Regions from separate parts of the Homo sapiens genome. Here region 2 is linked to region 1. The links come from fine-mapping of genetic effects on gene expression. A gene starts in region 1. The other region holds a variant in brackets. All regions are shown on one strand. Distances are from middle to middle.

Region 1 (5,370 bases):
ATCTCGAAACAAAACAAACAAACAAACAAAAAACAAAGAGAGTGCAGGAGCTGCAGCAAGCATAATGTAATACCACTGTTTGCTCATGCCTGTCATCCCAGCACTTTGGGAGGCTAAGGCAGGAGGATCGTATGAGCCCAGGGGTTTGAGATCAGCCTGGGCAACACAACAAGATCTCATCTCCACAAAAATAAAAATTAAAAAATTAGCTGGAGGCTAGGTGCGGTGGCTCACGCCTGTAATCCCAGCACTTTGGGAGGCCGAGGCAGGCAGATCACGAGGTCAGGAGTTCACGACCAGCCTGGCCAACATGGTGAAACCCTGTCTCTACTAAAAACACAAAAATTAGCCCAGCGTGGGATTACAGGCCCAGCATGCGCCTGTAATCCCAGCTACTTGGGAGGCTGAGGCAGGATAATCACTTGAACCTGGGAGGCGGAGGTTGCAGTGAGCCAAGATCGTGCCATTGCACTTCAGCCTGGGCAACAGAGTAAGACTCTGTCTCAAAAAGAAAAAAAAAATTAGCTGGGTGTGCTGGTGTGCATCTATAGTCCCAGCTACTTGGGAGACTGAGACAGGAGGATCGCTTGAGCCCAGGAGGTCGATGCTGCAGTGAGCTACAATTGTGCCAGTGTACTCCAGCCTGGGCAAGACCCTGTCTCTAGAAAAAAAGAACCATCTCCCAGAGTTGTATAATTCTTAAACTGCTTGTGCTTAGTCCAATGCTGGGTACATACAGAACCGCTGATAAGCTGGAGCTGTAATTATTATTATTATTATTATTATTATTACCACCATCGCTATTATCATCATTAACGAGTCAGAGATGGAATAACAGGGAAGTAGGAGCTGAGGAGGACAGATGGGGATAGTGTTTACAAGGTAAGAAGTGTTGGATGTTATAAGCTGGGGTGCGGATATTGGGGTGGAGAGAAGAGAGAGACTGACTGAGAGACATTGAGAAAGGCTGATGGAAACTGGCCCCTCCTAACTGGGCGATGAACCCCAGTGATACGAAACAGTGGGAGGCCCTGTGGCCCCTGGGAATAGAGAAGCAGCCACACTTGCTGGGCAGGGGTGAGGCGGGGGGAGGCTCCCAGGTTCTGTATCCCGAGCTGGGACTGGGGAGAGGGCCGTGGCTCTCACGGATGGCTCCTGACCTTGCGCTACCCTCTTCTCGCTTGCCATTGCTGCCCTGGCCCCTGGCCTGGGGGATGGGTGGGGTGAGCTGGCCCAGTCCCGCCCCTCATAGGCGCTTATACTCACACGTGCCCCTCTAGGGCTGCGTAAACAGGATGGGTGCCTGGGTCAGCGGCTCCCTCCCTTGGCCTTCCCTCCCACTCGTTCCCTGGGGGTGGCTGGCGCGCCTGGCTGCCCTGCTCCGCGCCCAGCTTTCTCAGCCGGGAGCAGCCTGAACGCTGAGACACCCTGCTGACCACTCAAAGGGCTATGGCCACCTCCTTCCCCGACACCGAGGGTCCCCCCGGGGGCTCTCCCCAGAATCTCAGAAACTGACACGCAGCCCCGTGTTTGCCAGTCTCTCTCTGTGGGCTGGAAGGTGTGGAGGAACAAGAAGGCAGTCACCTGTAGGTGGCAATGCGGGAGGGGAGAGGGAGAGGAGAGGCTGAGGTGCTGAAACCGAGAAAGGCCAGGCCGAGGACGGGCAATGCCTGTCACTCTGGAGCCCCTGAGCCAGGCTGGCTGAGCCTGGGTGGGTCCTGTCCCCTGGGGCTTCCCTGTCCTTACTCCTTTGGTGGGGTCCTGCCAGTAACTCCTCTCTTCTAAGTCTGCCCCCACCCCACCGCCTCCAGGAGCCAACGACAACCTGTCTCCTTAGATGCCCCTGCCCCCACCCAGCTCCCCGAATGCCTGGGGTTGGGAAATGGGAGCACTTTTGCATCACCTCATCCATTTCTCCCTCCCTCCCTGATGCGGCTCACTCTCTGTTTCGACAGAGACTCTCAGACTCACAATAACAGCTGATTACCCTATTGGTGGCTGGGCCCTGAGTCACTGCGGGGAGGGACCTCAGGTTGCCCAGCCCTGTCACCTTCTCCCAACCTAGAGTATAAGGAGTAGTGACAGGGAGGTGGACTCTGAGAAGCCCAGGCAGTTGAGGACAGGAGAGAGAAGGCTGCAGACCCAGAGGGAGGGAGGACAGGGAGTCGGAAGGAGGAGGACAGAGGAGGGCACAGAGACGCAGAGCAAGGGCGGCAAGGAGGAGACCCTGGTGGGAGGAAGACACTCTGGAGAGAGAGGGGGCTGGGCAGAGATGAAGTTCCAGGGGCCCCTGGCCTGCCTCCTGCTGGCCCTCTGCCTGGGCAGTGGGGAGGCTGGCCCCCTGCAGAGCGGAGAGGAAAGCACTGGGACAAATATTGGGGAGGCCCTTGGACATGGCCTGGGAGACGCCCTGAGCGAAGGGGTGGGAAAGGCCATTGGCAAAGAGGCCGGAGGGGCAGCTGGCTCTAAAGTCAGTGAGGCCCTTGGCCAAGGGACCAGAGAAGCAGTTGGCACTGGAGTCAGGCAGGTTCCAGGCTTTGGCGTAGCAGATGCTTTGGGCAACAGGGTCGGGGAAGCAGCCCATGCTCTGGGAAACACTGGGCACGAGATTGGCAGACAGGCAGAAGATGTCATTCGACACGGAGCAGATGCTGTCCGCGGCTCCTGGCAGGGGGTGCCTGGCCACAATGGTGCTTGGGTGAGTGGCTGTGGGGCTGCATGTGGAAATGGGAGGCTGTGGGCTGCTGGGCTGAGATTCTTGGGAAACGGTTGAAAGGATGGATGGATCTCTTACTTGCAGGCTTCTGGGGCAGCTTCCTTCTATGTTCTGCCCCCCTCCTATGCCACCCTGGAGTCCCTCTGCCTGTCTCTCTCCTGGTCTCTTTATGATTTGCCCTGGCTCTTCTCTACCAGGGTCAGAGATGGTCCCACTAAGTGCAGGTATGTTGTTCTTGCAGGAAACTTCTGGAGGCCATGGCATCTTTGGCTCTCAAGGTGGCCTTGGAGGCCAGGGCCAGGGCAATCCTGGAGGTCTGGGGACTCCGTGGGTCCACGGATACCCCGGAAACTCAGCAGGCAGCTTTGGAATGAATCCTCAGGGAGCTCCCTGGGGTCAAGGAGGCAATGGAGGGCCACCAAACTTTGGGACCAACACTCAGGTAAAGTCACCCCCAGACCTGCTACCTGCCACCTCCCTCCCTCCAAGCCCACATGCTCCGCGTGCCTCCCTGGTCCCTCTGGATCCTACTCTCAGTCTCACCCTCTCTGCAGGGAGCTGTGGCCCAGCCTGGCTATGGTTCAGTGAGAGCCAGCAACCAGAATGAAGGGGTAAGAGGAAGGGGCTGGGAACAAATGAAGAAGCCACTGGGTGCAGGCTACAGAGAGCTGGGGAAAGACAAAGAGGAAAGCAAGATGGGGGAGTGGAGGGATTGGGGTGAGAGGAAGAGATGGGGCTGGGCGAGGTGGCTCACACCTGTAATCCCAGCACTTTGGGAGGCCAAGGCACGTGGATCACCTGAGGTCAGGAGTTCAAGACCAGCCTGGTCAACATGGTGAAACCCTGTCTTCACTAAAAATACAAAAATCAGCCGGTCATAGTGGCATGCGCCTGTAATTGCAGCCACTTGGGAGGCGGAGGCAGGAGAATCACTTGAACCTGGGAGATGGAGGTTGCAGTGAGCCGAGATCGCATCACTGCACTCCAGCCTGAGCAACAGAGTGAGACCCTGTCTCAAAAAAAAAAAAAAAAAAAAAAGGAGGAAGAGACGGGCCTGGGCCTGGGGAGGAGGCAGATGGGAAGGGGAGGTGGGAGAAACACATTAGGAGAAAGGAAGCCAAGCCCCAAAGAATGGGAGAGGCCTGGCCTGTGTCCATGGCCGAGGCCAACGTCTCCAAACTCACCGTCCCCAAACTCACCATCCCTTTCCCTCGACAGTGCACGAATCCCCCACCATCTGGCTCAGGTGGAGGCTCCAGCAACTCTGGGGTGAGTGGAGAGGGGCAACCCAGGAGTTGTGCACCAGGAGGAAATGGAGAAGTTCTGCTCCCCTTAGACTGGGCATCATGGAATATGGCCTGGGTGGAGAGGGAGGGAGGAGGGGCCCGTCTTGGTGCTCTGTCTTTAATCCCAGCCCTGCTCCCTTCCTGCCCCTCAGGGAGGCAGCGGCTCACAGTCGGGCAGCAGTGGCAGTGGCAGCAATGGTGACAACAACAATGGCAGCAGCAGTGGTGGCAGCAGCAGTGGCAGCAGCAGTGGCGGCAGCAGTGGCGGCAGCAGTGGTGGCAGCAGTGGCAACAGTGGTGGCAGCAGAGGTGACAGCGGCAGTGAGTCCTCCTGGGTGAGTTTGGCACCTCTGTGGAAGGCTGAGATGGGGTGAGGCCCTAGTGGTCCCTGCCGGGAGAGGGCTCCAAGTTTCTCTGAAAGCTGCCGCTGCCCGAGGATGGGCGGCCTCGCTGATAGTCGTCACCCTGAGGCTCCCTCAGCCTCCTGTTCCCCACCCATGCTGTGCCCCTGATGCGCGCACTATCGTTTCTGCCAGAGCCACCCCACTGCTTCTGACTCTGTATCCCTATTTTCCACTCTGTGATGGTGGGGACGTTATCCCGCCTGTCTAAGCTCTTGCAGTCAAGTCCACTTGGCAAGTCTCAGGAGACCGTGGGGTGGCGGAGAAAGAGGGGGACATGGGAGAATATGACACTTGTCTGGGAAGCTCCCAGGAGAATGGGGGCAGGACTGTGATCCGGGAGACCTACGGACGCTGACAGAGCGACGGTGCAGACGACATTCACACATGGGGCCCCTGCACGATGGGTGTGAGGGCAGGAAGGGGCGCTGTGACCCCGCAGCTGCCACCCCAGGGCCCCGGGCCTCACTGACTCCAGAGCCGGCAGTCTCTCCAGCCTCCTGGTCAATGGCCTGTCCAACCCCTTGGCTGACGGCCTCTCCCATCCCGTGTCTTGGAGTCGAGCTGGAGAGGGAGCCACATCTGGCTTCCTCGGGGGTCGGGAAAAGTGTCAGACAGGAGGAGGTGCGTGGACACAATAAGCCGAATAACCTGAGCTGCTCTCATGCGCCGCTCCCCGTATGATCCTCCTCTCCCCCATCTAGGGCAGTTCTGGGAATGGTGACCAAGGCAGCTACGGCCGCTCCCAGGTGAGGGCTCTAGGGTCCCTTCCACTTGCTGCCCCCTGGTGGCAGGATCGCGGCTACTGCGCGGCCGGGCTCCAGGGGTTCCCACCCCCGGCCTGCGGTGGGCAGCAGCTCAGGTTCTCCAAATCATTGCGTAGTTCCGAATACCCTCGGCCACACCTGGCCTTCTCCATGCTCGGAATAACTTCCTGCAGCGACCAACAGGCTAAAGAGGGGGAAGG
Region 2 (5,370 bases), 30 kb after region 1:
CACCCATCCACCCATCCACCCACCCATCCATCCATCCATCCATCCATCCATCCATCCATCCATCCATCCATCCATCCACTGCAAAGATCTTGAAACATGAAATGGATTTAGTTTTGCTTCCTGTAGATGTATTTTCTCTGACCCAATTTGTGTACTTAAAATACTAAACTAGTTGGAATTGTTTCTGGTTTCTCTTGAAAACTGGGAAGATTAGAGAACAGTGGACCTGCGACTGGCTTAAAGCCAAGTAGCAGCTGCCCTCTTTACACAGGACATGGCTTCCAGGGAACTTTCTACTTGGCAAGCTTCACTTGTTTACATTGCCTTTGGCCTTTATAAGCAACTGCGTTTGTAAACCATCAACTGCAGTTTAATCGAGGAAGTGGACTACAAGGGAAATTAAACTTGGTTCCTACTTTCAAGGCGCTTACAGACCAGGTGAATGAGACATGTAAATGTTCCTGGCCGGGCACGGTGGCTCACACCTGTAATCCCAGCACTTTGGGAGGCCAAGGTGGGTGTATCCCTTGAGGTCAGGAGTTTGAGACCAGCCTGGGTAACATGGCAAAACCCCATCTCTACTAAAAACACAAAATTAGGTGGGCGGATCACATGAGGTCAGGAGTTCGAGACCAGCCTAGCCAACATGGTGAAACCCCATCTCTACTAAAAATACAAAACTGAGCCGGGTGTGGTGATGCATGTCTGTAATCCCAGCTACTCAGGAGGCTGAGGCACGAGAATCGCTTGAATCCGGAAGGCGGAGGTTGCAGTGAGCCAAAATTGTACCACTACACTCCAGCCTCGGTGAGAGAGCAAGACTCTGTCAAAAAAAAAAAAAAAGTTGCTTATGCTCTTCCTTCCAATACACACAAAGGAGAGGAAAGCTATAAATGGAATAACCAACAGAGAAGAAAACTATGGACACTGGTGAAATGCCACAATCAGTTGAAATACTTAGTGAAGATTGTGCACTCACAAACTAGGTGATAGGAAATGGAGTACAGGAAGAAGAGGGGAGGTGCTTAAGGGACACCCATCGAGTGACTAGGTTTTAGGGGAGGAGTAAAGCATCCCCAGGGGACTAGGAGTCACGATACACAAGTTAAGAGTATCTCTGAGATAAGGCGGTAGTTCTCAAAGTGTGGTCCCCACGCTGGCAGCACCAGGATCCCCTGGGAACTGAAAAGAAATGCAAATTCTTGGGCCCCACTTCAGATCTACTAAGTGCGAAACCAGGGGTGGGGCCCAGCAATCTGTGTTTTGACAAGCCCTCTAAGCAAGTCTGATTCACTAAAGTCTGAGAACCACTTCAAAAAGGAACGTCAGAGAACTTAAGATTAACCCAGAATCAGGATAGTAGTTGCCCCTTAGATGGAGAGATCCCATGTGATAGGAGAGTGGCACATAGGAGATAAGGGGGGACGGTGTGTGACAGAAGCCACTTCTATATCATGTTTCATTTCTTCTTTAAATATGTACATTTTATGCACACCTATGCATGTTGTATTTCACAATAACATATTATTAAAGCCAGAGAACACCAGATCAATTTGCAAGTGCTGACAGAATACACAGTCAAGAAACAATTGGAGTCTAGAGAGACTGCAATCTGAACCAAAAAGAAAAAGACAAAGTGAAGTGTAGACAAGCTGTGCACATGAGTGACAGATGTATACTAGCTAGATCATGTGAAATTGACAAAATGCACAAACATGGGTCAGGCCATTCAGAGGATTCAAAGAATGGAAGACATAGCACCTGTTCTCCCTGGGGATGACCTGTACATTTCCCATCAGGTAGAGGAGATAACTCAACACTGGAGACTTGAATCTGCATAAGCAAATCTTATTAAATAACCTTTATTTAATAAAAGGCAGGAAGTAGTCACTCTTCATTTTATACTTTATAAAAACAATAACAAATGCATTTTTTTTTTTTGAGACGGAGTTTCACTCTGTTGCTCAGGCTGGAGTGCAGTGGTGCAATCTTGGCTCACCACAACCTCTGCTTCCCAGGTTCAAACGATTCTCCTGCCTCAGCCTCCTGAGAAGATGGAATTACATCTTCTACATGGGTGCCCGCCACCATGTCCGGCTAATTTTTGTATTTTTAGTAGAGATGGGGTTTTGCCACGTCAGCCAGGCTGGTCTTGAACTCCTGACTTCAGGTGATCCGCCTGCACTGGACTCCCAAAGTGCAGGGATTACAGGTGTGAACCACCATGCCTGGCCAACAAATGAATCTTGTGTGGATACTATACCATCTGTTCAACAGGATGTAGAGATATACACTGAGCTATGAAACAATCTCCAAGATAGAGTAAAATGAAAAAAAGAAAGTGGCAGATCATTATGCTGCCATGTGGTTAAAATAAAGATATGGTACAAATATATGCTATTATCTGCATATTATCTGCTATTATCTGGAATAAAACTTGAGAAGTAACAGTGATAACTTTTGAAAAGTTAGATACTTTCACTGTGTACCCTTTTGGATTTTATGAACAAAAATGTTTTACCATGTGCAAATTACATATTCAAAAGAATAAATTAAAATCAAAACTTTCTAGTAAAGCAAACAAACACCAAAAAAACGCTTTGCACTGTAAAGTGGTAGGGCCTAGTCCATGCAGTGACCCAGAGTAGGTGCCTCTTAACTGAATGAATGAAACTGATTTCTCACATTTACCACACCCTTTTGCTACTCAGAGTGTGGTCCCCGAGCCAGCGGCATCAGCATCACTTGGTGCTTGCTTGCTAGAAATGCAGAAGCTCTGCTCACCCAGAGCTAATGCATCAGAATTTTAACAAGACCCCTGCCCCTGGATGATTCACATGTGGAATAACGTTTGAGAAGCACGGCCTTGGGCATGATGTTGAGTGCTATGCAGAAGGCCTTCAAGGAGTTATGATCCAGTTGATACTTACGATAAAGGAAGCATCCAGGGAGAAGGCACTAGATACCTTAGAACGATATGTTTAAATCTGACAGAAGGGAGGAGATAGTTTTGCACCAGGGTAAGAAAACTGGGGAAAGTAACTTTGAATTTGGCATTCATAAATGAACTTAAAAAAAAAAAAAGTCCCTGTCATACTCAGCCAGGACATAAAGGGACTAAAAACCAAAGCCAAACTAAGTGATTACTTTGGGAGGCTTCTGGGAATCAACTCATTTAAAAAACTGGTAAATAAAGGAAATGAATCAAGGATTCATCCTTACTTTCCTCTATGAACTATATACTTCAGGGTAAACAGTTTCTCTCTCTCTCTCTTTTTTTTTTTTTTTTTTTTTT[G/TTG]AGACAGCGTCTTGCTCTTTCACCGAGGCTGGAGTGCAGTGGCATGATCTTGGCTGGAGGCAGCCTTCACCTCCCTGGCTCAAGCAATCCTCCTGCCTCAGCCTCCTGAGTAGTTGGAACTACAGGCACAAGCCACCACACCTGGTATATTTTTAAATTTTTTGTAGGATGGGTGTCTTGCTATGTTGCCCAGGGTGGTCTTCAACTCCTGACCTCAAGTGATCCTCTGGCCTTGGCCTCCCAAAGTGTTGAAATTACAGGCATGCGCCACCATGCCCAGCTGGCACAATTTTTCTTTATACGAGAATTTGAAACTAATAAATGCAAAAGAAATAATAGAATATTTTCGTTTTTCAAAATTTAATAAAATAATGAATGTAGGCTAGCATCTGTAGGGAAGGAAAAAAACATTTTTTTCTACTGTCTTAGGTTCAGTGGCTGTGGCATGCTAATTACATTAACAAAAGAGGCCAGGCACAGTGGCTCATGCCTGTAATCCTAGCACTTTGGGAGGCCGAGGCAGGTGGATCACCTGAGGTCAAGAGTTCGAGACCAGCCAGACCAATATGGTGAAACGCCATCTCTACTGAAAATACAAAAATTAGCTGGGCATGGTGGCGCATGCCTGTAGTCCCAGCTACTCAGGAGGCTGAGACAGGAGAATTGCTTGAACCTGGGAGGCAGAGGTAGCAGTAAGCCGAGATCACACAACTGTACTCCAGCCTGGGCGACAGAGTGAGACTCCATCTTAAAAAAAAAAATTAACAAAAGATAGATTAGCAGGAGAAAAGGCTTATTATGCATGCATCCAGGAGCTTCACAGAAAAGAAGTGAAAACCTAAAGAAGTGGCCAGGCTTGAGGCTCATATACCGTTTTAACAAAGGGTGATAAATCGTGGAAAAGTAAGCTGGGCATGGTGGCTCATGCCTGTAATCCCAGCACTTTGGGAGGCTGAGGAAAGCGGATCACTTGAGGTCAGGAGTTCGAGACCAGCCTGGCCAACATGGTGAAACCCCATCTCTACTAAAAATACAAAAACATTAGCCAGGTGTGGTGGTGCACACCTGTAATCCCAACTACCCAGGAGCTGAGGCATGAAAATCCCTTGAACCTGGGAGGTAGAGGTTGCAGTGAGCCCAGATCACACCACTGTACTCCAGCATGGGCGACAGAGTGAGACTCTGTCTAAAAAAAAAAAAAAAAAAAATTGTGGAAAAGTGACAAAACGGTGAAAAAGGGATTTGGACATCCAGGTGATGTAAATTGTGGGAAGGTAAGTAAAATATACAGGGGAAATTAATGGAAGATAAAGGGTTATTTAGCAAGATTTGCTTATGCAGATTCAAGTCTCCAGCGTTGAGTTATCTCCTCTACCTGATGGGAAATGTATACCCTGCTTTAGGCAGAAAGGGAGAGGACAGAGAGTTCCTCTTCTGTCTGCTGCTTCTTAATTGCCTTCTACTCAAAATAATCCTTATGCTAAAGCAGCATACTTTGGAGTAGCACATGCTAATCCCTTCACATTAATGACTGCCAAACCCGGCAGGTGAAATGCTGATGGGGAAATTTATGGTGGTGGATCAGGCTCACAACCAGTGAACCCATGTATCTATCCAACACCCAGAGAGAGAAGAGACAAGCTTCTGCAGACCTGATGCAACAGAAAGCACAGGGCCCCACATAGGAAGCATTCTTGCCAAAAATCAACTCCAAACCTGATTAAAACTCTAGACTCTAGATCTAACTACCAGTTTGCAGGGGGATGAAAAGGCACAGAGGAACACAGTAAAGGATTCTACAGGAAAGATGTTAATAACTCCCCCCAACCTTGGCATTTCCTGTGAGAAATTCTAGAAAACTGATAATCCAGCTTCTTCAACAAAAACACTGTAGAAGAGTCGGGCACGGTGACTCACGCCTATAATCCCAGCACTTTGGGAGGCTGAGGTGGGCAGATCACCTGAGGTCAGGAGTTCGAGACCAGCCTGACCCACATGGAGCAACCCTGTCTCTACTAAAAATACAAAATTAGCCAGGTGTGGTGGCACATGCCTGTAATTCCAGCTACTTGGGA

Which allele goes with the higher level. Positions count from the first base shown, and alleles are read on the strand shown. Sizes are in standard deviations (SD) of each study's normalised expression.
With allele TTG in place of G in region 2, the expression in NK cells of the gene that starts at base 2,099 in region 1 is lower (large effect, 1.0 SD a copy in Gilchrist 2021).

What was found. PIP is the estimated chance that this variant, and not a neighbour inherited with it, causes the effect. A credible set is the group of variants that fine-mapping cannot tell apart.
Region 2: its variant is the best candidate, but not a certain one, in a credible set for the expression of DMKN in NK cells (Gilchrist 2021, PIP 0.77).

Annotation. Positions count from the first base shown.
Region 1 is chr19:35,510,378-35,515,747 of GRCh38, reverse strand. It overlaps DMKN (dermokine), which reads left to right and starts at 2,099. Exons shown (of 16, transcript NM_033317.5): 1 at 2,099-2,698; 2 at 2,958-3,158; 3 at 3,271-3,327; 4 at 3,935-3,985; 5 at 4,155-4,337. The coding sequence starts at 2,273. RefSeq lists an enhancer at 5,260-5,370.
Region 2 is chr19:35,480,626-35,485,995 of GRCh38, reverse strand. No RefSeq gene overlaps it. Among named protein-coding and RNA genes, the nearest start is that of KRTDAP, 7.2 kb to the left of the region's middle. RefSeq lists a silencer at 1,178-1,267. The variant G/TTG (reference allele first, on the strand shown) is at 3,296.